7 linked regions of the Homo sapiens genome follow. The protein of the gene in region 1 interacts with the protein of each later gene in a biochemical or structural test. Each region holds a gene or a part of one and is shown in the gene's direction. Other genes may lie near its edges. The genes, in order: SHC1, UBASH3B, FLT4, ZAP70, GAB1, CSF3R and PTPN12.

The links.
Region 2: the proteins of SHC1 (region 1) and UBASH3B interact in a test that uses a peptide from one of them, tested with the Homo sapiens proteins (one study listed by BioGRID).
Region 3: the proteins of SHC1 (region 1) and FLT4 form a complex in vitro, tested with the Homo sapiens proteins (2 studies listed by BioGRID).
Region 4: of the proteins of SHC1 (region 1) and ZAP70, one has a biochemical effect on the other in vitro, tested with the Homo sapiens proteins (2 studies listed by BioGRID, with this or other methods).
Region 5: the proteins of SHC1 (region 1) and GAB1 form a complex in vitro, tested with the Homo sapiens proteins (2 studies listed by BioGRID and IntAct, with this or other methods).
Region 6: the proteins of SHC1 (region 1) and CSF3R form a complex in vitro, tested with the Homo sapiens proteins (2 studies listed by BioGRID, with this or other methods).
Region 7: the proteins of SHC1 (region 1) and PTPN12 form a complex in vitro, tested with the Homo sapiens proteins (2 studies listed by BioGRID).

Annotation. Positions count from the first base shown.
Region 1 is NC_000001.11:154,967,948-154,972,247, reverse strand, and holds the start of SHC1 (SHC-transforming protein 1), read left to right. Parts: upstream 1-1,500; 5' UTR 1,501-1,721; coding exon 1,722-2,216; intron 2,217-2,799; coding exon 2,800-2,870; intron 2,871-3,413; coding exon 3,414-3,477; intron 3,478-3,633; coding exon 3,634-3,753; intron 3,754-3,990; coding exon 3,991-4,044; intron 4,045-4,216; coding exon 4,217-4,268; intron 4,269-4,300. UniProt on the Homo sapiens protein: Signaling adapter that couples activated growth factor receptors to signaling pathways. Participates in a signaling cascade initiated by activated KIT and KITLG/SCF.
Region 2 is NC_000011.10:122,809,222-122,812,721, forward strand, and holds part of UBASH3B (ubiquitin-associated and SH3 domain-containing protein B), read left to right. Parts: intron 1-527; coding exon 528-665; 3' UTR 666-3,500. UniProt on the Homo sapiens protein: Interferes with CBL-mediated down-regulation and degradation of receptor-type tyrosine kinases. Promotes accumulation of activated target receptors, such as T-cell receptors and EGFR, on the cell surface.
Region 3 is NC_000005.10:180,618,601-180,622,100, reverse strand, and holds part of FLT4 (vascular endothelial growth factor receptor 3 isoform 1 precursor), read left to right. Parts: intron 1-196; coding exon 197-559; intron 560-848; coding exon 849-995; intron 996-1,093; coding exon 1,094-1,225; intron 1,226-1,385; coding exon 1,386-1,492; intron 1,493-1,792; coding exon 1,793-1,928; intron 1,929-2,331; coding exon 2,332-2,436; intron 2,437-2,734; coding exon 2,735-2,848; intron 2,849-2,991; coding exon 2,992-3,080; intron 3,081-3,180; coding exon 3,181-3,331; intron 3,332-3,500. UniProt on the Homo sapiens protein: Tyrosine-protein kinase that acts as a cell-surface receptor for VEGFC and VEGFD, and plays an essential role in adult lymphangiogenesis and in the development of the vascular network and the cardiovascular system during embryonic development.
Region 4 is NC_000002.12:97,723,576-97,727,075, forward strand, and holds part of ZAP70 (tyrosine-protein kinase ZAP-70), read left to right. Parts: intron 1-440; 5' UTR 441-461; coding exon 462-863; intron 864-1,516; coding exon 1,517-1,677; intron 1,678-3,500. UniProt on the Homo sapiens protein: Tyrosine kinase that plays an essential role in regulation of the adaptive immune response. Regulates motility, adhesion and cytokine expression of mature T-cells, as well as thymocyte development.
Region 5 is NC_000004.12:143,441,376-143,444,875, forward strand, and holds part of GAB1 (GRB2-associated-binding protein 1), read left to right. Parts: intron 1-3,500. UniProt on the Homo sapiens protein: Adapter protein that plays a role in intracellular signaling cascades triggered by activated receptor-type kinases. Plays a role in FGFR1 signaling. Probably involved in signaling by the epidermal growth factor receptor (EGFR) and the insulin receptor (INSR).
Region 6 is NC_000001.11:36,469,414-36,472,913, reverse strand, and holds part of CSF3R (granulocyte colony-stimulating factor receptor isoform a precursor), read left to right. Parts: intron 1-227; coding exon 228-397; intron 398-522; coding exon 523-676; intron 677-774; coding exon 775-848; intron 849-1,267; coding exon 1,268-1,481; intron 1,482-3,073; coding exon 3,074-3,262; intron 3,263-3,500. UniProt on the Homo sapiens protein: Receptor for granulocyte colony-stimulating factor (CSF3), essential for granulocytic maturation. Plays a crucial role in the proliferation, differentiation and survival of cells along the neutrophilic lineage.
Region 7 is NC_000007.14:77,540,295-77,543,794, forward strand, and holds part of PTPN12 (tyrosine-protein phosphatase non-receptor type 12), read left to right. Parts: intron 1-3,500. UniProt on the Homo sapiens protein: Dephosphorylates a range of proteins, and thereby regulates cellular signaling cascades. Dephosphorylates cellular tyrosine kinases, such as ERBB2 and PTK2B/PYK2, and thereby regulates signaling via ERBB2 and PTK2B/PYK2.

The DNA of each region.
Region 1 (4,300 bases):
TTGAGACGGAGTTTTGCTCTTGTCACCTAGGCTGGAGTGCAATGGCTCGATCTCGGCTCACTGCAACCTCCGCCTCCTGGGTTCGAGCGATTCTCCTGCCTCAGCCTCCTGAGCTGGGATTACAGGTGCCCGCCACCACGCCCAGCTAATTTTTGTATTTTTAGTAGAGACAGGGTTTCACCATGTTGACCAGGCTGGTCTCGAACTCCTGACTTCAGGTGATCCACCCGCCTCAGCCTCCCAAAGTGCTGGTATCACAGGTGTGAGCCACCGCGCCCGGTAGGAATACGTATCTTTGTTTTTTTTTTTTTGGTCACTTTCCAGCTTTGCCTGTGGCATTCTCCGGAAGAGCAGTGGCAGGAAGCCGTGGGTGGCAGGAATGGGTTTGGGACTGTTCCCTGTGTCCAGCTTCAACCCATCTTCTCCTGACACCCCTTTCTCCTGTACTTATTTTTCTCCTGTCCTTATTGACGCAGATGTGTCTTCTGATCTCTCTGTCCCTTCCTGGCCTGTAGTTTCTACTTCTCTTGGAGAACTGTTTCTTCCACCTCCTCCAGCCAGGCTCCTTCCCTGGTGTGAAGGATGCTGTGCTCTTTGGTGGGGCTTAGGGCCCTGTAAGAGGAGGGATGTGAATTGGGGTGGTTTGGAGTGGGAGTGGGGACCTGATTGCCTCATTCTCACCCTTGACAGTGTGCTGTGTTAACAAGCCCTGTGGAAAGGGGAGACAGGACAGTGCTTGGCTATGAGCCATCGGTCTTGGTGTGGTAGATGGCATACGTAGAGAACAAGCCGTGACCAGCATGTCCTCTTGTTCCCTTCTTGCCTGGTAGCTTCCTGATGTATCATCCAGGTTGAACTTTATTCCCCTTTTTTCACCAGCTTTGCTCTTCCTCTTGGCCCTGCTCTGCATCCATTGGGACCACTTACTTCCCATCCCCACTTCGCTAGCTCCAGTCCACAGCTGCTGTAGCAGAGGATGCTAATGGCCCAGGCTTACTGTATGGGGTAGCGGTTGGGGGTGGCCTGGGCTGGGGCCAGCCAGCTTTCGGGCATAGAGAGGGTGGGGGAATTCGAGTGTCCAACCAGGACAGGAAGGGAAATGCTGAGCTCTGAGATCTCCTCCCTTTTCCACCCCCAGCTGCCTCTGTTTCCTCCCTCATTCCCCTGTACTCCTGCCTGGCTTCCTGCCCCCTTTGGCCTGCGTGTGTCCGGTTTTGAGTGACCCAGACCTCCTATCTCCTTCCTTTCCGTCCCACTCTTCCATCCTTCCCTCCCACCCCCACTTTACTTCTCCCCAGATTACTAGTTGTTTGTATAGGGCAGGGGAGAGGGGCTTGGATAGCCCTACCCCCTGCTCCAGTTCGAGGTTGGGGCGGGGTGGGGGCTCAGCCCCTCTGAGCCTGTGAGTCAGCACTGTCCTCACGATTGGTCTCTCCCCTTAGCTCCCCGCCCCTGGGGAGGAGCCAGAAGCGCTGGGTCCAGCCTGTTCTCTTCTCAGCCAGAGAAGAGGCTCCACGTTGGGCGGGGATGGGGCCTGAAACTGTCTGGGTCTGAGCTGGGGAGCGGAAGCCACTTGTCCCTCTCCCTCCCCAGGACTTCTGTGACTCCTGGGCCACAGAGGTCCAACCAGGCTAAGGGCCTGGGGATACCCCCTGCCTGGCCCCCTTGCCCAAACTGGCAGGGGGGCCAGGCTGGGCAGCAGCCCCTCTTTCACCTCAACTATGGATCTCCTGCCCCCCAAGCCCAAGTACAATCCACTCCGGAATGAGTCTCTGTCATCGCTGGAGGAAGGGGCTTCTGGGTCCACCCCCCCGGAGGAGCTGCCTTCCCCATCAGCTTCATCCCTGGGGCCCATCCTGCCTCCTCTGCCTGGGGACGATAGTCCCACTACCCTGTGCTCCTTCTTCCCCCGGATGAGCAACCTGAGGCTGGCCAACCCGGCTGGGGGGCGCCCAGGGTCTAAGGGGGAGCCAGGAAGGGCAGCTGATGATGGGGAGGGGATCGTAGGGGCAGCCATGCCAGACTCAGGCCCCCTACCCCTCCTCCAGGACATGAACAAGCTGAGTGGAGGCGGCGGGCGCAGGACTCGGGTGGAAGGGGGCCAGCTTGGGGGCGAGGAGTGGACCCGCCACGGGAGCTTTGTCAATAAGCCCACGCGGGGCTGGCTGCATCCCAACGACAAAGTCATGGGACCCGGGGTTTCCTACTTGGTTCGGGTGAGTGAACATCCTCCTCTCCATTCCCCCGCAGACCCCCTCCAGTTCTAATGCTCACTCCAGCTTGGCCGGAATCTCTTTTTTCCTGCTGTTCCCCAACAACCCCGTTTCAGTGTCCTATTTCCTAAACCTTTCTCATCCCTTCCCCGATTCTGTAGCCCCTTCCCTTCCAGCTTTGCCTGGGCCCCCTTCCTTCTTTTCACTCCCCCACCCCCACCCTGGCATGCTTAGCACAATGCCCAGCATGGCAGAAGCTCTTAATAAGTGTTGGAATGAATGACTTCTTGATCTTTCCTCCATTCTCCTCCCGCTTTCTGGAGTTGTCACTCCATCCCAGCCAATGCCTGTCGGTCCCCTCCAAACTCTCTCCCCAGTGTGTGAGGTCCTTCTAGCCTGCCTTTTCTTTTTCTCCTCATTCCCTGTTGTCTTTCACCTTGGTTGTGGGATGTAGCCACGGGAAGTGGGCAGAACTTCTTCCTCTTTACTTCCCTTAGGGACCATATGGGTAAAGTCCTAGGGCCCTTTGTGAAGGGGCTGGGGTGGGGGAGCCGCTGACCTGCTGTCCTCTTCTCCCTCCCCTTAGTACATGGGTTGTGTGGAGGTCCTCCAGTCAATGCGTGCCCTGGACTTCAACACCCGGACTCAGGTCACCAGGTTAGTGGGGAGGGAGTGGATTGTGGGAGTCCTGGGATTAGTGAGGCCATGGGAAACAGAGGAGGGGAGTGGGTCACTTGGGTGCTGCTGCTGGGGGCTGATCTTTGCGTAGTAAAGGGGATTGAGAGAAAGCTGAGGTAGTGATTCCGCCTCTTACTGAAAGGAGGCCCCTTTGGCCCGGATCCTCCTTACCTATCCAGCCTTGGGAGTTGTGGGGAAGGTGGCAGAAGCAGCTGGCAGGTGGAGCTGGAGTAGAAAAGGGGGGTAGATGGAAGGTTGCTGCTGCCTTTGGGAAGGGAATGGGACATTTGGTAGCTGGAAGGGGGTGGGGCTATACCCATTGAGGCCCTAACCCAATCAGCCAGGAAGTGGCCTCTCAGTGTCATCAAATATTAAAGGCCCTTAATTCAATCCACCATGACAAAGAGCCTGGAGTGCCCTGGGAGTCTGGCCTGGCTTTCCCCTCCCCCAGCCCTGTGGCAGCCCCAGTTGAGTGGGAGGCAGGCAGGCAGGCGCTGGGTCTGAGTACCCCTCTTTCCCCAGGGAGGCCATCAGTCTGGTGTGTGAGGCTGTGCCGGGTGCTAAGGGGGCGACAAGGAGGAGAAAGGTACTTGGGGTCCTTGGGGATAGGGATGCTGCTGGGAAATGTGGAGGGGCAGTGGGGAGGCAAGTGTGGGGCATGTGGGGAGAGGGCCAGGAGGCAAAAGTGTGGTTTGCCTGTGCTGGGAACCCTCACCTTCTGAGACCCTGGGCCCTACCTTAGCCCTGTAGCCGCCCGCTCAGCTCTATCCTGGGGAGGAGTAACCTGAAATTTGCTGGAATGCCAATCACTCTCACCGTCTCCACCAGCAGCCTCAACCTCATGGCCGCAGACTGCAAACAGGTTGGTGAAGGTGGGCAGACGGACCAGAAACACTGATGGGGGTGCTAAGGGGAGATCTAGTTAGGAGGCCAAAATCTAGGAAGAGGGCTTGAGAGCAGGAGACCAGTAGGGAAGGAGGAAATGAGGATATGGGATAAGGAACCCAGAGAATGAGACTGGGGCACCAGGGTTCTGGGCCCTGAGGCTGCCTGACACATGGCATTCCCTTCCTTCTTCATCCCCTGCCCTAATTCTCAGATCATCGCCAACCACCACATGCAATCTATCTCATTTGCATCCGGCGGGGATCCGGTGAGTTGGGGAACAGAGCAAAGGCGGTGGGAGAAGAGCAAGGGGCTAGGGATTGGGAAGACATTGATTAGAGAAGTGGGGGTGCTAGGATTGTGGGGATATCTGAAAAGGACTGGGTTTTAGGGGTCAGGAGTAAAGTAGAACTGTAAAATTTTTTGACCTTCCTCCCCAGGACACAGCCGAGTATGTCGCCTATGTTGCCAAAGACCCTGTGAATCAGAGAGGTGAGGCATGGTGGGGAGCACTGGGTGGGTCT
Region 2 (3,500 bases), on another chromosome or scaffold:
ATGCCACCACGCCCAGCTAATTTTTTGTATTTTTAGTATAGATGAGGTTTGCCATGTTGGCCAGGCTGGTCTCGAACTCTTGACCTCAAGTGACCCGCCCGCCTCGGCCTCCCAAAGTACTGGGATTACAGGCGTGAGCCACTGTGCCCGGCCTTGAGCTGCCTTTTTACCTGGACTTGCAATTGGGAATTAACTCCTGGCATTGTAGCCTTATGTATTTTGGTCCTCTTTTTCTGCCACCCAATTAAGCAGCAATCTATGAACAATGACTTAATTACTTTAGGGGAGGTCACCATTTAATGGATCCTTCTGATGAATCCTCTTGCAATGTAAATACTCTTCTAAGTTACCAGTTTTACCCATTTTATTTTATTTATCGATTTTTGAAGGGAATGCATTTCTACAAAGCCACTATCCATTTCTGACTGCAATTCTCTAGGGCCACATGAATATCTTTGTATTTAGGTAAAAGTTAAAGCATTAAACCTATCTCCTAATATCCCCTTTCTTTACGACTCTTACTTCAGATCCCATATCTGGGATTTTGTTCCTGTGAAGAATTAGGAGAAACTGGAATATGGCAGCTGACAGATCCACCAATCCTTCCTCTTACCCATGGACCAACTGGGGGCTTCAACTGGAGAGAGACCTTGCTTCAAGAATAAACCACACCAGTGAACAAGAAGGAAAGGCCTTTTGGAGTGTGTCTTTCTGTGTGTTTAAAAACAGTGGGAAAATCCACACCACACTCTAAGTGGACAGCTCAGAATAATTTAGCATATTTCCTTTCACACTTAAAGTTCTTAAGATGAGACTGTGTAAATGAGAGAAAGACTTGATTCAGAGGAAAAAAATGTGTTCTCTCTGGACTCTTGCCTAGCTCACAAGGCTTTGGAGAATTGTCTTCCTAAATCGGGGCACCTGCTACAGAAGAGAATGTTTCGTTCCCTCTGGGTATGCACAGCTAAGGGGCCTCATTTCTCCCAGAGGGAGCTGCTGGCCCGCTCTAAGGGGTGCAAGAGGAAGGAGTGTGCCCAGACCAGCTGGGGGAGCATTGAAAGGACAGCTTGGGGATGGAATTTTTTTTTTTTTATCTCCATTTTCCAGTTAGGTAGAGCCAAGCTGAGGAATCCTTTTAAGATTATTAGAAAACATGCCCTGAAGAGAGTTGTTCTTAGGTTACACATGAAATCCTACCGTCACTAGCCCCCATACACCAGTGTTGCTGGCTGAAGATACCCGCTTAAGGATGCTAACATTTACCCTGGTACTGCCACATTTTCTCTAGAGCAGCTGGCCCTTCTTGCTACAGCCCTATCCCCCCTCCTTGCTTCTGTGAAATGGGGAGACAAAGCACTTTTGCTCTCCAAAGCACTTTTGGATACTCAGGAGGAAAGATAAGATACATGTTTGAAGTATTCAATCATAGGAGCAAAGAACTTGCAAAATATGAAGTGACTTGGAATTAACCATGTTGTAGCCTAACGTGCTACTGCATTTCTAAATCATCAATATTTGCTTGTCTTTGCCCCTAGACTCTAGACTATGTTAACTAGTTAAGGATGTTACATTTTGAAAGGATGTATGTTAGATATATTATTTGCAGCAAGAAGTTCATTCTGTGCAATATGGACATGTTTGCAAACCATACCAAGGGTCAGGTTGTTGTACACTTACAGTACGTGTCAACCATAATGGAACATCCACAAATGCATCAATTATACCAGGGATGTATAGTAAGTCAGGGAACTAATATAAATGATGACAGTCATGGCTGCACTGCTACTTGTGCTGTCGTTTTGTTTGTTTTTCTATGATAATTTAAAATACATAGGTAGGGCTACTGAGGAAATTTGGAGAGCCACATTCTGTGGTTTCTCATTATACTTACTTCCTGCATTTAGAGGGAGTTTATTTAAAAGAAATAAATGACAATCAAACCAAATCATCAGTTATCAATGTCTGTTTAATTGTGTGACTATCTGACTGTTGATGGCCACAGATGATGGTCTCCTATGGTATAGTTCACTCTGTAGAAGATGTATGCAAAGTGAAATGCCAGCCCTTTAAAGAGACATTAGTTAGTGTAAAATGGATCTTTACATGTTGCAGTAACATTGACTATGTTTCAAAACTCAGATGCATAAAACGTAAGGTATATAAAAATACATCTATGCTTGCGTTTGAAACTACAACTTGATAACCCCTAGAAAGAAGAGGACATGAAAGGATGCTGGCTATATATGTTAATGAGCAAAAGGATTATAGTTGTTTTGTTTTGTTTTTAGAGACAGGGTCTCACTATAATGCTTAGACTGGTCTTGAACTCCTGGGCTCAAGCGATCCTCCTGCCCCTGTCTCCCAAAGTGCTAGGATTACAGGTGTGAGCCACCACACCTGGCCCATAGTTGTATTTTTTTTAGGTCACTTAGAAAAATATGTCATGTATTTTACATTTTGAGAAACAAATCAATCATGGTTTCTTCTAGCGTTGCGCAAACACTGACCCAGCTTCTGGGTATGGAAATAACCCTGTGATGATGTGTTAATATAAAATGTTGGGAGGGAATATTCCCAATAAAGGTCTTAAGAGAAAAGTCACATTACAAGTAATGTAATGGCTCTACCATTCATTCTTCTGGTATTTGTAATGAAGTGAATCCACTGTTTAATCAGATCCATAATCTTTAACAGATTCACCACAAATTTTCATGGGCGTTGAGTGCTCAGAATAATGCTTGAACACCTCACCTTGAAACTGTAGCAGTGTGTTCTGGGCAGTATCTGTAATGTATGAAATAGAGTCTGGAATAGGTTATCCACTCCATCTTCTAGGTTATCTTAGTTGTATGACGAACTGATAAATCTGTCTGACTGGGCTACAATCCATTGTTCTTAGTCCAATATGGACACTGCCTTAGGCAATGGTCTATATAAGCAAAAGGAGATAGAGATCTGAAATAATTTTCCGAATAATTCAGGTGGAAAACAAGAAAGATTGTATTTCTCTGCTTTCATTTCAATTTCATTATTTCAAATTGCTTGTCAAAATGGCCCAAAAGATCTGAATTCACATTAAGTTCCCCTTGCACACTTACCTATTTAAAAAACTAAACTTGCACTGCAACTGAGAAATTATTTGTAAATCATGTGGCATCTATGTATAATAAAAGAAAGAGACAACTATATTACTCAATTTCATATACATCCAAAAAGTATAGGCTAATATATATAACCTGAAGTTGCAGCTGGTTCTTTTTGATCTGAAGCTGATGCTTATTAAAACAAATGATGTATGGGGAGAGGAGAAGGAAGGGCAAGGAAGGAATTGACAGATAAGAAGCAAATGGTTTCTTGTACAGAGGAATTTTGTTTTAATGTAGAAAGTTATTTGAAATAAACTAGGTGAAATGAAATTAACTAAAGGTTTTAATCTGGGATTGAAAGCCTGAAAGCATTTCCTGCTTCTACAAGTGTGCCACATCAATCCGGTAATGCCC
Region 3 (3,500 bases), on another chromosome or scaffold:
AGGACTCAAGTCCCACTGAGGGTGACAAGGAACTCCTGATGACCTGGGCTTTTGGTGGGGCGGGGGGCAAGCAGTCCAGCTGGGGCCCCTCCAGGAGAGAGGGAGGGAGGGAGGCAGGAGGAGACCCCGGGGCGGCAGGTGGATGGGGGAGCAAACTCCCAGGGCAGTGCCACAGGGCTTCTTCCTCCCTCCACAGCCATCCCCGACGGCTTCACCATCGAATCCAAGCCATCCGAGGAGCTACTAGAGGGCCAGCCGGTGCTCCTGAGCTGCCAAGCCGACAGCTACAAGTACGAGCATCTGCGCTGGTACCGCCTCAACCTGTCCACGCTGCACGATGCGCACGGGAACCCGCTTCTGCTCGACTGCAAGAACGTGCATCTGTTCGCCACCCCTCTGGCCGCCAGCCTGGAGGAGGTGGCACCTGGGGCGCGCCACGCCACGCTCAGCCTGAGTATCCCCCGCGTCGCGCCCGAGCACGAGGGCCACTATGTGTGCGAAGTGCAAGACCGGCGCAGCCATGACAAGCACTGCCACAAGAAGTACCTGTCGGTGCAGGGTGAGGCTGGCCGCGGGGAGGGCGGGGACGCGCTCTCTTCTAGCAGTAGCTGCCTCTGCCTTTGCCCCGGCGTGGCTCGCCCCTGGGAGGTCTATTCACAGCCCTGGCCTGCAGGAGCTACCCCTCCTGACTATCCGCCGCCCCCTGCGGAGGCGCGCCGCGCTCCTGCCCGGCGCACAACCCCTAAGTCCAGCTTCCAGGGATCCTTTTCTACCTCTGCTCCCAGCCCAAAGAGGGTCCTCCTGCTAAGTGCAGCTCCACTTAGCTCCCTCTCGACCCCTGCCCCCAGCCCTGGAAGCCCCTCGGCTCACGCAGAACTTGACCGACCTCCTGGTGAACGTGAGCGACTCGCTGGAGATGCAGTGCTTGGTGGCCGGAGCGCACGCGCCCAGCATCGTGTGGTACAAAGACGAGAGGCTGCTGGAGGAAAAGTCTGGTAGGGAGGGTGGCCCTGGCGAAGGGCAGGTCCGGAGGCCCGCGAGGCCGACGATCCCAAACCCAGGTGGACCCGCACCTCCACCCCACCCCCTGCAGGAGTCGACTTGGCGGACTCCAACCAGAAGCTGAGCATCCAGCGCGTGCGCGAGGAGGATGCGGGACGCTATCTGTGCAGCGTGTGCAACGCCAAGGGCTGCGTCAACTCCTCCGCCAGCGTGGCCGTGGAAGGTCTGGCCTCAGGCTGCACCCCTCAACTCCCTTCCCGTCCCCAGTTAACGCTTTCTTGTGGCCACCTTGGGCAAGTCGTGGCCACCAGAAGGGGTGCTGCCTGCAGGTGCACGCTCTTACACACACACACACACACGCCGGCCCCTTTCTGCCCACGCAGGCTCCGAGGATAAGGGCAGCATGGAGATCGTGATCCTTGTCGGTACCGGCGTCATCGCTGTCTTCTTCTGGGTCCTCCTCCTCCTCATCTTCTGTAACATGAGGAGGGTGAGTGTCCCTCCCCGCTCCTGATGGAGTCTCTCTCAGGCCTTCCCCACCCTGGCCGCCCCTAAGATAAAGAATAAGGTGCCCGCCCTAGTTCACCTGGCAGCCTTGTTTCCTGGGAAGCCTCCCTGCCCTTCACGCTGGGCTCCAACCCCGCAGAGGTTGTCTGTCTTTTTTTCTGTCCCCTCCTTGACTGAGAACCCCGCAGGAAGTGCCATCTGTCCTGGGCAAAGTTCTGCCCAAGCCACAGTGGTATGGCCAAATCAGTGAGCTGCCCCACTCCTCCCTGTCCCCTCCCCGCAGCCGGCCCACGCAGACATCAAGACGGGCTACCTGTCCATCATCATGGACCCCGGGGAGGTGCCTCTGGAGGAGCAATGCGAATACCTGTCCTACGATGCCAGCCAGTGGGAATTCCCCCGAGAGCGGCTGCACCTGGGTGAGGCCAGCACCAGCCTGCCCAACCCACACCTCCTGCCCGACCCACCTGCTGCAGGCCGGAGTGCCTGAATCCCTCCATTTTCAAAACTTGCACCAGGAAGTTCCGCCTGGCCTGACCTGTCCCTGTGGGCGTGGGTACCTAGAACCTCAGCCAGGGTCCCCAGTTCCCAGGCTCCCTGAGGTCACCTGCTGCCACCCTGAGCAGGGTGTATCTGTCACACCTACCCGGGAGGATGCGCGGCCTCCTGTCCACCTCTCCTTGTCTTCCCGCTGTGGCTCCCCACGCTCCTCCTGCTGCCAGGCCTGTCCTCCTGGACCTCTGCACGGGGCTCCCCCGCCGCCCACCTGTCTCCACGCTCACCCCGTACAGCTCACCTGCAACTGGCCCCCTGCCCCGACAGGGAGAGTGCTCGGCTACGGCGCCTTCGGGAAGGTGGTGGAAGCCTCCGCTTTCGGCATCCACAAGGGCAGCAGCTGTGACACCGTGGCCGTGAAAATGCTGAAAGGTGTGGGGTCAGCGGGCGGAAGGGGCAGCCTAGCTGGTGAGGAGCAGCAGCTCGGGGTGGGCCGGTGGGACGGCAACTCGGGAAGGGAGACTGAGGCTGGAAGCCAGTCTCATCCGAGATTCTACAGGGAGGCTGCGGGCTTCAGAGCCGAGGGACCACCCGAACCCCCTCTGCCTCAGTGGGGCCGGCAGGATGTCCTGGGGGCCCTTAGTAACCCTCCCCCTCCCAAAAGCGCCGGGTGGCGGGGAACGGGGACCTGCCAGGGTCGGGGCCGGTGTGAGGCCCGTGTCCCCTCCAGAGGGCGCCACGGCCAGCGAGCACCGCGCGCTGATGTCGGAGCTCAAGATCCTCATTCACATCGGCAACCACCTCAACGTGGTCAACCTCCTCGGGGCGTGCACCAAGCCGCAGGGTACGGAGCGGGCGGCCCGCTGGGACGGCGAGACCCCGGGCGCGGGGCGCCGCGGGCGGGAGGGGGCGCGGGTGCAAACGCGGAGCGCGCCCGCAGCGCGCCCCGGGTTCCGAACGCACGGCCGCCGCCCGGTCCCGCCGCAGGCCCCCTCATGGTGATCGTGGAGTTCTGCAAGTACGGCAACCTCTCCAACTTCCTGCGCGCCAAGCGGGACGCCTTCAGCCCCTGCGCGGTGAGCGGGCGGCCTGCGGGGCGCCGCGGGCGGCGGGGGAATGGAGGCGCCTCTGCGGCGGACGACTGGGCGCCCTCGAGCCAGCTTCGTGCATCCGCAGGAGAAGTCTCCCGAGCAGCGCGGACGCTTCCGCGCCATGGTGGAGCTCGCCAGGCTGGATCGGAGGCGGCCGGGGAGCAGCGACAGGGTCCTCTTCGCGCGGTTCTCGAAGACCGAGGGCGGAGCGAGGCGGGCTTCTCCAGACCAAGAAGGTGAGAGCCTGGCCTCTTCCCTTTTCCTAGTGCCTGACGGGCCCGGTTATATCCCGTGATCAGGCACCCCAGCCTGGGGTCCTCAGCGGGGGCTTTCATGGGAGAGTGTGGAATGGGCTCTGCCTTAGGAAGGGAAGACACCTCGGGGACAATTTTCACACAGATGTTT
Region 4 (3,500 bases), on another chromosome or scaffold:
ATTATTATTTTTGTTTCTTTCTCAGTTTATCTCACGGCTCTCCCTCCTTAGAGTGTTGCCTTCGGGAGGACGGGGTGGGACCGCGCCTGCCTCAAGCGTGCATATCCCCAGCACCGGGCCTGAAACACAATAATTCAGCACGTGGTTGGGACATGAAGAGATGGGTACAGGTGTGGGTGCTTGGGGACCAGTTGGCGTGCTTGGGCGTCCACATAATGTCTCTGGAAAGTCAGATGGGGGTTTGGGACTTCTCGATCTGTGCCCAGCAGGCTGCGGCTTCTCTCCAGGTTGACTCTGGCACAGAGCAGGCTCTGCCCCCTTGGCGAGCTCAGTCTGCGGCACTGATGCCCTCCACTTGGCGTCTCTCGCGCCGTCTTTGGGCCCAACGCACCAGGTTCAGGAAGGCCCTGACGTGCCTCCGACCCTCTGTGAACCCGCAGGTTTCGGGAGGCCCAGGGGCGATGCCAGACCCCGCGGCGCACCTGCCCTTCTTCTACGGCAGCATCTCGCGTGCCGAGGCCGAGGAGCACCTGAAGCTGGCGGGCATGGCGGACGGGCTCTTCCTGCTGCGCCAGTGCCTGCGCTCGCTGGGCGGCTATGTGCTGTCGCTCGTGCACGATGTGCGCTTCCACCACTTTCCCATCGAGCGCCAGCTCAACGGCACCTACGCCATTGCCGGCGGCAAAGCGCACTGTGGACCGGCAGAGCTCTGCGAGTTCTACTCGCGCGACCCCGACGGGCTGCCCTGCAACCTGCGCAAGCCGTGCAACCGGCCGTCGGGCCTCGAGCCGCAGCCGGGGGTCTTCGACTGCCTGCGAGACGCCATGGTGCGTGACTACGTGCGCCAGACGTGGAAGCTGGAGGTGAGAGCGCAGCCTGGGGCGCGGGGTCTGGAGGGGCGTGGCCGAAGAGGGGCAGTCGAGGGTTTTGGGGGGATAGGAGGGAGGAAAAGGTCGTCTTCCCCATTCAGTCCCCTTTGGAAGCTGGAGAGGTGGGGCACTGGTTGGGGAAGAACCTGAAAGGAGGCCTCAGAGGCAGGGGCTCCGTGGTGGCGGTCGCCTTCCGCAGGCTGAGCGATGCTATGGTGCTCTACTATGCCAGATGGGAAGGTAGAGGGACGCACTGGGCCGGGCGAAGGCGAGGCTTGGAATGGGGGCGGGGCTGAGAGGAGGGTGCGCGGGGCTAGGGTGAGCCCTTAGGGTAGGGTGGCTGTTGGGGAAGATGGGCAGTAGTCGTCCACAGCCTGAGTGACACCACCATGCACAACTACCTGAATTAGGTCTTCAAGCTGGAGATGCGCTTGGGGCCGCGCTGGAAGGTGGGGGTGGTTCCTCCCTAGCTGGATTGGGGAGGGGACCACGGAGATGGCGCGGAGGTAGTCCTCGAAAACCTGCCTAACACGCGCTAGGGACGCCTGGGTGGGGTGGGGAGTCCTCTGGGACAGGGCTCCCGGAAGGGGGTTCCTGTGGCGAGCACTTGGCCACACCTACAGACCTCCTCGCCTCTCCTTTTCTAGGGCGAGGCCCTGGAGCAGGCCATCATCAGCCAGGCCCCGCAGGTGGAGAAGCTCATTGCTACGACGGCCCACGAGCGGATGCCCTGGTACCACAGCAGCCTGACGCGTGAGGAGGCCGAGCGCAAACTTTACTCTGGGGCGCAGACCGACGGCAAGTTCCTGTATGTGGGGCCCGGGATTTGGGTGCGGTGAGGATTGGGGCTCGTTGGCAGGGATCCTGGGGACTGGGGCAGACGTGAGTGTGCAGTTGGGCCGTAAGGGTGTCCCTGTGCTCACATGTGCAAGTGGGTTGTGTGTTTCTGATGTGCAAAGGGACTTGCACATGGGGAAGTAGAGGTAGTGACTAGGAAAGCCTCCAGACTCGGTCCCTTGGCCTGGCTTGGAATCCCGCTTCCGCCACCTGCTGGCTGTGGCCCTTGGGCAAGTAGCGGACTGTGGTTGCCTGCCTCAGTTTCCCCTCCTTCAATCAACAAATATTTACTGAATACCTACTGTGTACCAGGCACTGAGCACACGGCAGTGAGCCAAAAAGACACAGTGCCTGTCCTCATGGGGCAGGTAGACAAGAAAAGGAATCAATAAAATAGAGACCCTGTCAGATGGTGGTAAGCGCCGTGTGTGCAGGTGGGGAGGCGGTTGCAATTTTAGATTAGGTGGTCAGAAGAGGCCTTCCTGAGAAGGTGACTTCTGAGGAAGGGAAAGAAGCTGAGGAGTGAGCTGTGCAGCTTTCAGGGGGAAGGGTGTTCCTGGAAAATGCAATGGCAAGTGCAAAGATCAGGAGGCAGGAGTCTATTTGGCGTGTTCCAGAAACATTGTGGAGGCCATGTGCCTGGAGCTGAGTAAGTGAGGGGGAGAATGGGAGGAGGTGAGGGCAGGGCGGGGACTTTAGCTTTTCCCCCAAGTGAGGTGGGATCCCCGGGAGAGTGTTGAAGCAGCCCCCTCTAACTGTCCTGTGGTTGACAGCAGTACCTCCCCTCAGGATCCTCTATGAGGATTACATGAATTAATACGTGTGAATCGAGAGTATGGTAACTGACATAGGAAAAATGCGGTAAATGTTAGCTTTTATATGTGGGTGAACGTGCGTGTCTGAGCCACAGCTGAGGCCATGTAGCTATTTGTGAGTTTGTTAATGTGAAAAAAATCTCTGAAAATCTCTTTTTAAAACTCTGCTGAGTGTTTGACAGCCCTGCTGGGGCTGTTGCTCTCTGGTTTGGACACGGGATCTTTTCTGTAACAGATGGTATCCAGGTGCAGCTGAGGTCACTCAGGCCTCAAGACACAGATAAATTGGTGCTGCCTCTTTCCCATGACCTCAGGAAGCCCAGTGTTTTCCCCCAAGAAATCTGTGGGGACAATTCTTGGGCCTTCCTTCTCGTGAGTGCTTCTTGGCCTGAGCCCCTGCCCAGCAGATCCCTTGGGTCATCTGCCTCCCCCAGGGCTGTTTCCTCTCCTGAGGTCAACCCACTTGGAGGAAATGACCACATCCCTTGATTTTCCTCACCCATGTGAAGTTTCTGTAGATTGCCTGCAGGCCTCTTGCAAGATGCAGCTCCCTCTCCAAGATTCTGTTGTGGGCTGATAAAATAACTCTTTTCACCCTACCATACAGATTCAGATTTAGGCTGTAAATTGGAGTGGAGTTTCCAAGGCTTCTGAGGGAGCTCTTAGATACATGTTGCACGTAATACTCAGTTGCCGGCACAACTTCTGAACAGGACAGGGCTGTTTTCTCTAAGAGGAAACCTTTGCATTTGTATCAGTTAGCTTTTGCTACATAACAAGCAGCCCTAAGATTTATTGGCTCAAAATGACAGTTTATTGCTCTTCATGATTCTGTGAGCTAACTAAGCAGTTCTGGTTTGGGTCATCTAGGCTGGGCCTGAATAGGCTGGGATGGCCACACTCACATGACTGGCCATTGGCTCAGTGTCACCTGGGTGATGGGGATGAGCTGGCCCAGTGCAGCCATCATCCAGCAAGC
Region 5 (3,500 bases), on another chromosome or scaffold:
TATATGTAGCTTTTTAAGACCACATAATGTTGGCATCAATTTCTCCTTAACCTGGGCTTAGATCATTAATATTAGTTCTAATTAAGTCCTAGTTGTGAGGAAAAGAGACTGAGGCTCAGACTATCTTAAGAAAAAAGATTTGGTTTTGTTTGTAAGTAAGGATAACCTCCTCGTTTCAACAGGAGGTTAACCTCCTTCAACAAGGAGGTTATCAGGAACTGAAGCAATTCTAGGGGACTGTTGCTGTGTCCTGCTCTCTCTGTGCATTTCTGTTTTATGGGAAATCTTTGCATCTGGTTTGTTCTCTTTCACATTCTTCCCTTCTTTTCTGTTTTCTTTTCTGATTCTTTTTTGTTTTCTTACTCTGTATCCTCTACTTAAATGGATTCTGCTTTCCAAGAGCTTTGGCCTCCAATGCTCCCCTTCTATGGCCTCAGTTCTGCCTCCTAGCTGCTTTTTATGTGCCCTTGCAGCTTCTGCATCAGCTTCTCATTGCCTTACTTATTATTTACTCACTTTAGATTGCTTAGAGATGATGTGATTGGTCTATGTGTGTCACACCCACGACGACCCAGTCTGCCCTGGCAGCAGGGCTGTGATTGCGGTGTGGATCTCAGAAAGGATGTGAGCATCAGAGGCTTTCTATCGGATAATGCTTCCTTTTGTTTCCTTTTTCTTTGTCTCTAAATCTATTTTAGACAACTACTAGTCATTTTCTTTGCATATAATATGCAAAAATATGTTTGGACATGTATAGCTTTATAATTGGTTCATACAGATCACTGAAGGATTGAGATATAAGTGTCATGAACTCTTTGAAATATTGAAATATCTTTTTTAATGTTAAACTGGTGCTTTCCTTATTTTCCAGTAACGAGTGCATGTTAGTGGCAGATCTCTACTTTTTAACTCCAAACCTAACAGTTTTATATTTTGAGGTCTCGCATAAATGTGGAGGGAGTAAGATTTGGGTGAGGTTACAAAGCTTTTAAGTCCTACCTCCCTTGCTCCTCTGCTGCTCTTTTCTCCCCTTGAGCTCTGTAGAGCACAGTTTGAAAACTCCAGTATATTTCAACAGTTGTGATTCCATGTGGTAAGCATAATATGAAATCAGGAAACACCACTGTTTATAAGTTAGAAAAGACCTAAGATCAATTAATGATTAGCTTTTAGTATCCTCTAGGTCTGATATCACTCATGTATCCCACATTATTATGATATATATTTTATGTATATATCAGAATATATACTATGTATCATGTATACTACATATTTTATAATTATACATCCCTATGTATTTAGTGAAAGTACTATTATTCTAGTACACTAGAGACTAATCACACTAGTTCTTTAACGTAAAAGAACTTAATAGAACAGAATAAAGTAGGTTCTTATTTCTGGAGATTGTGTTCATTCTTTTAAAATTTAACTGAACTGTTCAGAGACAATTGTGAGTTCGTTGGCCACATTATTTATTTGGCATATTTGCTTAGATACAAAATGAACTTAAAAAGAGCACCCAGATTGAAATACCCATATAGTTTTTGCCAGAATCAAGAATAGACTTAGCAAAACAGTAAAGAGGTTCCTGAAGTCATAGTATTCAAAAAAAATTTACTTTTCTTTAGTACTATTTTACTTTTTTTTTTTTTTTTTTTTGAGACAGAGTCTCGCTCTGTTGCCCAGGCTGGAGTGCAGTGGCGCGATCTCGGCTCACTGCAAGCTCCGCCTCTGGGGTTCACGCCATTCTCCTGCCTCAGCTTCCCGAGTAGCTGGGACTACAGGCACCTGCCACCACGCCCAGCTAATTTTTTGTATTTTTAGTAGAGACGGGGTTTCACCGTGTTAGCCAGGATGGTCTCGACCTCCTGACCTCGGGATCTACCTGCCTCGGCCTTCCAAAGTGCTGGGATTACAGGCGTGAGCCACTGTGCCCGGCCTGTACTATTCTACTTTTTAAATAGTTATGATACAGGAGAGGAGGCTTGAGAATGTATTTAACATTACAAGGCAGACTTTGTAAACTCACTTTACAAAGTTATGACTTCATAAACTCACTTTACAAAGTTATAACTTCAAGAAAAACACATTTTAAAATCCAAATTCAGATCTCAAAGCAAAGTTTATCCACAAACACTTAAACAAAAATAATGTCTCGTTTGGTCCTATAATTTTTCTCAGTATTCATAGCATCAGATGAATCTATTTTAATTTCAAATTTCATGACATCAGATAAATGACTTAATCTATTATTCAGTATCTCTTATATAAAACTCATTATAAGCAAATCTAATTCTATAAAATATGGCTTGATTAGTTTCAGAGCTCCATATAACTAGTTCATTGCCCTATATGTCTGGTTTTTGAGATTGTCTTTGGAAGGATCTATAAGAAACCAGTAACATTCTAGTCTTGTTTATAGCCCCAATTATAGATGTCAGCTGCTGTAGTTTGCATACAGATGAGCTTTTCAAATACTTATGAGTAATTGAAACTGCAGAAATACATAGATGTTCTGAACACTTAAACATAATTATCTTAGACCCTTTGCCTGTCACTCAATTCATGATAGTGATATTTTCATCATACTATTTCTGTCACTGTAGTGTTTGTTTTGAGCCAAGTTTTGTGTGTATTAAGAGAAACGTATTTTAAGCATACTGTATTAAATATTGGGAAAGCAGATGAGTCACTGGAAATACAGGACAAATTATATTTTGACCTCTTCAATTGAAAATTTTATATTTCTGATGGAAAGGGAGTTTTGTAAAGTTTGGGAAATTTATCTGTTATAGCTTCTCTTTATGTCATGACATAAATCTAGTATATTAAATCGCTAAACTTATCTAAGGCCCCCATCTCTGTCTAGTCTCTGTCTAGCATGATGCAGCAGCTGTGTGAGCCCCACATGCTGTCTTTATGTTGTTATGTTTGGCCTTGTCCATTCACGCCTTTCTGCAACAGTCTGAACATTAGTTACTATACTGACTTTTTTTTGTTAAGCCAGTGCAAGGTTTTGTATGGTGTTTTTATACACCACTTTGGTTAAAGTACCTTCAAGCTTAGATCCTTAATATTGTGTGGGGAGCATACAGAAGACTAATCCTGAGAGTTTCCCTGGGTGACTCTTTTGGCACAGTGATGGATTTGCTCTAAACATTTTTTCAAGAGATCTTTTAAAGTTTCTGAATGTGATTAAAAATTAACATGCACTTTTTAAAATTTTTATTCTTTTGTATTTCAATTTTTATTTTAGTTTTAGGGGGGTGCATGTGCAGGTTTGTTACCTGTGTATATTGTGCGATGCTGAGATTTAGGGTATGAATGATCCTGTCACTCAGGAACTGAACATAGCACCCAATCGTTAGTTTTTCAACCCTTTCCACCTGCCTCCTTCCCCTCTCTGGTAGTACCCAGTGTCTGTTGTTGCCATCTTTATGTCCATGTTTAGCTCTCACTTGTAAGTGAGAACATGTGATATTTGGTTTTCTGTTCCTGCG
Region 6 (3,500 bases), about 120 Mb from region 1:
GGAGGGAAAACATTTCAAGCAGAAGTAACAACCAGTGCAAAGGCCCTGGGGCAAGAGCGGAAACAGAGACCTAGAGAGAAACAAAGACACATAGAGATCGAACCACAGAAACGTGTCATTGGCAACGTGGACAGATGGTGAACCACAGACAGGGAGACAAGAGGGAGCTAAGGCAGAGCCCTCTAGGGTGGGATAGGGAGACCTTCTGACAGCCCCACTCCTTGCAGTGAAACTGGAGCCCCCCATGCTGCGGACCATGGACCCCAGCCCTGAAGCGGCCCCTCCCCAGGCAGGCTGCCTACAGCTGTGCTGGGAGCCATGGCAGCCAGGCCTGCACATAAATCAGAAGTGTGAGCTGCGCCACAAGCCGCAGCGTGGAGAAGCCAGCTGGGCACTGGTGAGGCAGAGGGCAACCTGGAGAGCCTGAGGTGGTGGGGGCAGGGGGCAGGGTAAGTCGGGCTCGAGCTGGCCCTAGAATGGCCCAGCGATCCAAGGCTCAGAGTCCTGTCCACCCCTCACCAGGTGGGCCCCCTCCCCTTGGAGGCCCTTCAGTATGAGCTCTGCGGGCTCCTCCCAGCCACGGCCTACACCCTGCAGATACGCTGCATCCGCTGGCCCCTGCCTGGCCACTGGAGCGACTGGAGCCCCAGCCTGGAGCTGAGAACTACCGAACGGGGTAAGGAGGTGATGAGAGGCTGGGAGCAGCCAACAGTATCCAGTCCAGGCCCCAGGCCCCTCCCCAACTGGCACCCCCTCTTCTTGTTCCATCCACAGCCCCCACTGTCAGACTGGACACATGGTGGCGGCAGAGGCAGCTGGACCCCAGGACAGTGCAGCTGTTCTGGAAGGTGACTCCCTCTGAAGGCCATCCCTCCACCTCGACACCTCCCGCAGTCCAAACAGATCCCTACAAACCGGGGCTTAGGACTCCAACAGGTCTGGGAGGCGTGGACGCATTTATATGTGATTTGCATGCACTTTGCATGTGCCTAGGGAGCTGAGTTAGCTTTTGGACAGACTGTAACGCACGTCACAGTGTGGTTCAGTGAATAGTTAAGAGCCTGCTGTGTCCACCAACTTGTTTCTTCCTGCCCTCCTTCCTAGAACCTAGCACAAGGGAACAGAGGGAAAAGGGGAGGGGGGTGAGAAGCCTGGACCCCAGCCTGGGGAGGCTCCGTTTGTATGATCCATCCACCCCACCTAGAGGCTCTCCTTGACTCAAGATGAGCTGCACATCCCCTTCTCTTTTTCCTCCTGTGCCCCACAGCCAGTGCCCCTGGAGGAAGACAGCGGACGGATCCAAGGTTATGTGGTTTCTTGGAGACCCTCAGGCCAGGCTGGGGCCATCCTGCCCCTCTGCAACACCACAGAGCTCAGCTGCACCTTCCACCTGCCTTCAGAAGCCCAGGAGGTGGCCCTTGTGGCCTATAACTCAGCCGGGACCTCTCGTCCCACTCCGGTGGTCTTCTCAGAAAGCAGAGGTAAAGGGGGCTGGCAGCCAGAAGAGCACAGAGGTCAAGCGCATCAATTCAAAGGCTAGACTGCCTGGGTTAAATCTAGTCCTATTGGCCGGGCGCAGTGGCTCACGCCTGTAATCCCAGCACTTTGGGAGGCCGAGGTGGGCAGATCATCCGAGGTCAGGAGTTCAAGACCAGCCTGGCCTACATGGTGAAACCCCTGTCTCTACTAAAAATACAAAAATTAGCCAGGCATAGTGGCGGGCACCTGTAATCCCAGCTACTCCGGAGGCTGAGGCAGGAGAATTGCTTGAACCTGGGAGGCAGAGGTTGCAGCAAGCTGAGATCACGCCATTACACTCTAGCCTGGGCAACAGAGGGAGACTCCATCTCAAAAAAACAAAAAAAAACAAAAAACGAGTCCTATCACTTGCTAACAGTGTGACCTGAGTAAGTTACCTCCCATCCCCGGCCTCTGTTTACACATCCAGCAGATGGGGATGATAACAGCACCTACTGAGCGGTGCCATGGGGTGTACATGAGTTAAGACAAGTGCCTGGCACAAAGTAACTGCTCTGCATGTGTCTGCTGTTGTTATTATCATTAGCCAGACCAGGTTAAGCTCTCTCTCTCACACACACACACACTCACAGCCCATTCTGCCAAGAAAGCCAAGAGAGAAAGCCCCAGGCTTTTCCACTTGGAACCTGGTCTATGAGTTCATTGCTCATTCTCAGGAAATCAGCTGCCACCACCCACTGCTTTCCCTAAACATTGGTCCTCGCAAGGTGGGACTAATAATCACAATAACAATAATCATAGCTAATATTCCCACTTACTAGCTGTGTGATCTTAGACAAGTTTCTTAACCTCTCTGTGTCTCTCAGTTTTCTCATTAGTAAAATGGGGAAAAGAGTAGTACTTCCTGGGTATGACTATTAGAGGACTCAGTGAATTAAAATGTATCAAGGAGTCCAGTATGGTGGCTCACGCCTGTAATCCCAGCACTTTGGGAGGCTGAGGCGGGCGGATCATCTGAGGTCAGGAGGTCAAGACCAGCCTGGCCAACATAGTGAAACCCCATCTCTACTACAAATACAAAAATTAGCCGGGCATGGTGGCGGTTGCCTGTAATCCCAGCTAGTCGGGAGGCTGCGGCAGGAGAATCACTTGAGCCTGGGAGGTGGAGGTTGCAATGAGCCGAGATGGCGCCACTGCACTCCAGCCTGGGCGACAGAGCAAGTCTCTGCATAAAAAATAAAATAAAGTAAGGTAAAGTAAAGTAAAATAAAATAAAATATATCAAGGACTACGCCTGACACATACCAAGAACAATAGAGTGTTAGCTGTTATCACTAACAAGAACTACTCCATGCCAGGCGCTATGCCAGGCTTGTTTCGTGCATCAAGTCATTTAATCTGCACTAAGACCCTATGAGTTAGGAACTTTTATCATCATTTCTACTTTACAGATGAGGAAACTGAGGCTAAGATGTTGACCTACCAAAGGTCACCCAGCCTGTAAATAGCAAAGCCAGGATTTGAACCCAGGCTTCTGGCTCAAGGGCCTGCATTCTTTTCACCTTCATTCCACCATTTCCCACCCTGTCTCCAGGCCCAGCTCTGACCAGACTCCATGCCATGGCCCGAGACCCTCACAGCCTCTGGGTAGGCTGGGAGCCCCCCAATCCATGGCCTCAGGGCTATGTGATTGAGTGGGGCCTGGGCCCCCCCAGCGCGAGCAATAGCAACAAGACCTGGAGGATGGAACAGAATGGGAGAGCCACGGGGTTTCTGCTGAAGGGTGAGGCTGGCCTGGAAAGTTGGGCAGGGCCAGGGACAAAGGGAGGCAGTGCTTATCTGACAATAGGCATGGGACAACCTGAACTGCCCAAGAGACATGGATTCTCCAGCCTTTCTTGATCCTTCGTTGTTCTCATTTCATATCCTCATAATCAGGAAGTTCTTCCTACAGTCTAACCTGATCCTTTTTCTATAGCCCTGACTCTGCCACCCTTCTAGCTCTCTCTTCCACTTTTCTT
Region 7 (3,500 bases), on another chromosome or scaffold:
TGGCTCAATCTCGGCTCACTGCATCCTCCACCTCCCAGGTTCAAGCGATTCTCCTGCCTCAGCCTCCTGAGTAGCTGAGATTACAGGCGCATGCCACCACGCCTGGCTAATTTTTGTATTTTTAGTAGAGATGGGATTTCACCATATTGGCCAGACTGGTCTTGAACTTTCATCTGACTGACTTTGTGATCTGCCCGCCTCAGCCTCCCAAAGTGCTAGGATTACAGGCATGAGCCACCGAGAGTTCATTTCTCCAAGAGTAAATGAGTTTCCTTTTTCTTCCATGATACCTAGGTATAGCTAGGTGATTCTACATTAGAGATTTGATGACTAAGGCTATTCTTTTATAGGGCTTTTTTTTTTTTTAATTTCCTGACTTGATAAGCAATAGCTGTAATTAAGACAGCCGGTAGTTGGTGCTGCTTTTTCCCCTGACTGGAAGGCTGGAGAGGAACTATGTTCTCCTGGCATGGAAAGAGAAAAAAAAGATTAGCTTATAGATTCTATTATTTTTAAATTCTGATGTCGATTAAAAATGCATTTTAAATTCTTAACATTTTATGACTGAGCCTTAGAGATAATGTAGCTGATATAACTGTTCCATCATAAAATAATGTTTATTCCAAATTTGGAAATTAATAGAATAATAATAATGCCTTACACTTAGACCACAGTTCAAATGAACACTCCACTTGCCTGACTGGTGATGATGCTCTTTTCGCTCTATCCAGCTGTCCTACAGTCCTGTCATTTAAAGGCTACCTCTGTTAATATTTTTTGGTTTTGTTTTGTTTTGTTGTTTTGTTCTGTTTTTGAGACAGGGTCTCACTCTGTCACCCAGGCTGGAGTGCATGGTTGCGATCCTGGCTCACGGCAGCGTCGGTCTCCCTGGGCTCAGGTGATCCTCCCACTTCAGCCTCCAGAGTAGCTGGGGCTATGGGCCCACCCCACCAAGCCCTGCTGATTTTTGTATTTTTTGTAGAGACAGGGTTTCCCCATGTTGCCCAGGCTGGTCTCAAACTCCTGGGCTCAAGCAATCCACCTGCCTCAGCCTCAAAGTGCTGGGGTTACAGGTGTGAGCCACCGTAGCCGGCCTACTACTTGGTAACTATCTTATATCTTAATTTTGTTTCTTTATGTTTGAGTATTTAGGTCATTCTACTTTCTGCTGTTACATATAGTAATTCTGTGATTAACATTTTTGCTGAAACTGACATTTTTCACTGTTGCATAAGATAGCTTCCCAGGAGTACTAGGTAGACGTATATAAACATTTAATACATGTTCATAAACTTGAAAAAGTTTTGTCAGTTTATACAACTGTCATAATGTATGAGTGTTCATATTATAATTTTCTTGATCTTTATTTGATGGTTGAAAACTGATATCTTGTTTTAACTTGAATTTCTTGATTACTATTGAGGATAGAAATTTTCCACCTGTCATTACTATTCTATGAGTGTCTATTCCTGGCCTTGGTTGTGCCCCATACTGTTAAAGAGGAGACAGCTAAGGTACCCAGACTGTGCAGAACTATGTTGCCTAGATGGTTATTTGCATGTTGAAAACATGCTAATTTTGCTAATAAATTAGCAAATAGCTAATTTGTGGCTGATCCAGAATTTGATCTCAATTATCTCTACTTTTAATATTTACAAAATGAGAGATAAATGTATAAAGTAGGGTGGTGCACATTCATGTTTGACAGACCTAGGTTTTAACTCCACACAGACTCCCTCTGATGGCTGGGGGTTGGGGAGGTGGTCCTGGACCATACTTTGAGAACCAGTGAGCTAATACATGGTAAATGATAAAGGTAATGCTGGGAAAGTTAGGTAGAGGTCTTTTTGTGAAGGATCTTACATCTATGCTATACTTAGATTTTATTCTACAGACCGATAATAGCAATTCTGGACAGTCTGCATTGTAACTCCTAGAGACATGGAGAAAGTAGGGAGGTGTTAAGAAAATAGACATGCTGGTCCACTCCAGCGTCATTCCCCCATCTCACCTTCTCCAGCCTGCTCCTTGAGTTGTACTCTGAACCTTCACTTACTTAGATAGGTTCTGGTAGAAAAGGTGAGAATCATTAGTCTGGGTTTCTGGAGCACTACTGAGTCTTTTAAGAAAGGTAAACAGTCATTTGTGTTTTACAAAGTTGAATCTGATAGCAGTATGAAGGGTGGCATTTTGGAAGCTGTTGAAATATAAGAAGTGAGATGTGAGGGCCTGAAGTGAACTGAGATGGGGAAATAGAGTGTATACAACACATCTGATAAGAATTAAGAAAGGAGTCTCAATGATTCATTAGATGTAGGTAGTAAAGAAGAAAAGAGTATAGTGTTATGACTCGCAAAATATCTAGCTTGGTATCTGTCACCCAAGCTAGAGAATACCATTTGGTAGAGTAAGGAGTGAGGGAGGAGAAACAAGTAGAGGAGACCAAACAACATTGTAGGAGGAAGTTTCAGGGGGAGAAGAGGATAAATTTAATTTTCAACATGTTAAAACTGCGGTGCCTCTGAGACATCCAGTAGAAATGTAGAGCTCAAGATTTCTGACAGGACGGAGTTAAAGATGTAGGCATCATAATATAAGCATGTAGGAGATAGTCGACAGCATGGGAGTGAATGAGCTTATTCCAACAAACTTATAGAGTGACCAGCTTTAGGTTGAAGAACATCAGTCTTAAAATAACAGCCAAAAGAAGGATATACTAGTGATTGTTCCTGAGAAGGTGTGGTCAAGGAGGAGGGAGGAGAACCAGAGATGTCAGAAAAGCCAGGGAGAGTTTCAAGAAAGGAGTTATTACCAGAGTCAAATAATGCTGGGAGGACCGGTAAGGTGAGGTTGAGAAAGTACCTATTCCATTTGGCACATAGGAGTGCTTTGGTGACTAGAAAAAACAGTTTGGGTTGGGGTATGGGAAGAAGCTAGATTATAGGGTGAAGGGTGGGTTTAGTGTCTTTCCATTTTTTTTAACATTTTGAAAGTAGATGGTAGGAGCTAGAGGAAGATTGGTTGAAGGAGAGTGTGCCCCTTCCACTGCCTTTTTTTTTTTTTTTTAAAGAGAGAACTAGAGAATATTTTTCTTATTATTTCTTGTCTATGTGTATATCCTCTTTAGCCTGGGAAGATCTTATGTTGCAGTCTTGATAAATATAAAAATTTTAATCATTTGTTTATTCAGTGTTGTAGCTTATAGGTTTAAAAAAACTAATAATAGCTTTATTGAGATATAAGTACCTACCATAAGATTTATTCATTTAAAGTCTATGATTCACTAGTTTTTTATTACATTGATGAAGTTATGCAACAATAACCATAATCAATTTTAGGACATTTTCTTCACTTTCTGTACCCATTAGCAGTCACTCCCCGCCTTCCCATAAGCCCCAGGCAACCACAAATCTACCTTCTGTTTCCATAGATTTAAGTATTCTGGACATTTTATATAAATGGAATCATACAATATGTGGTGTTTTGTGACTGACTCCACC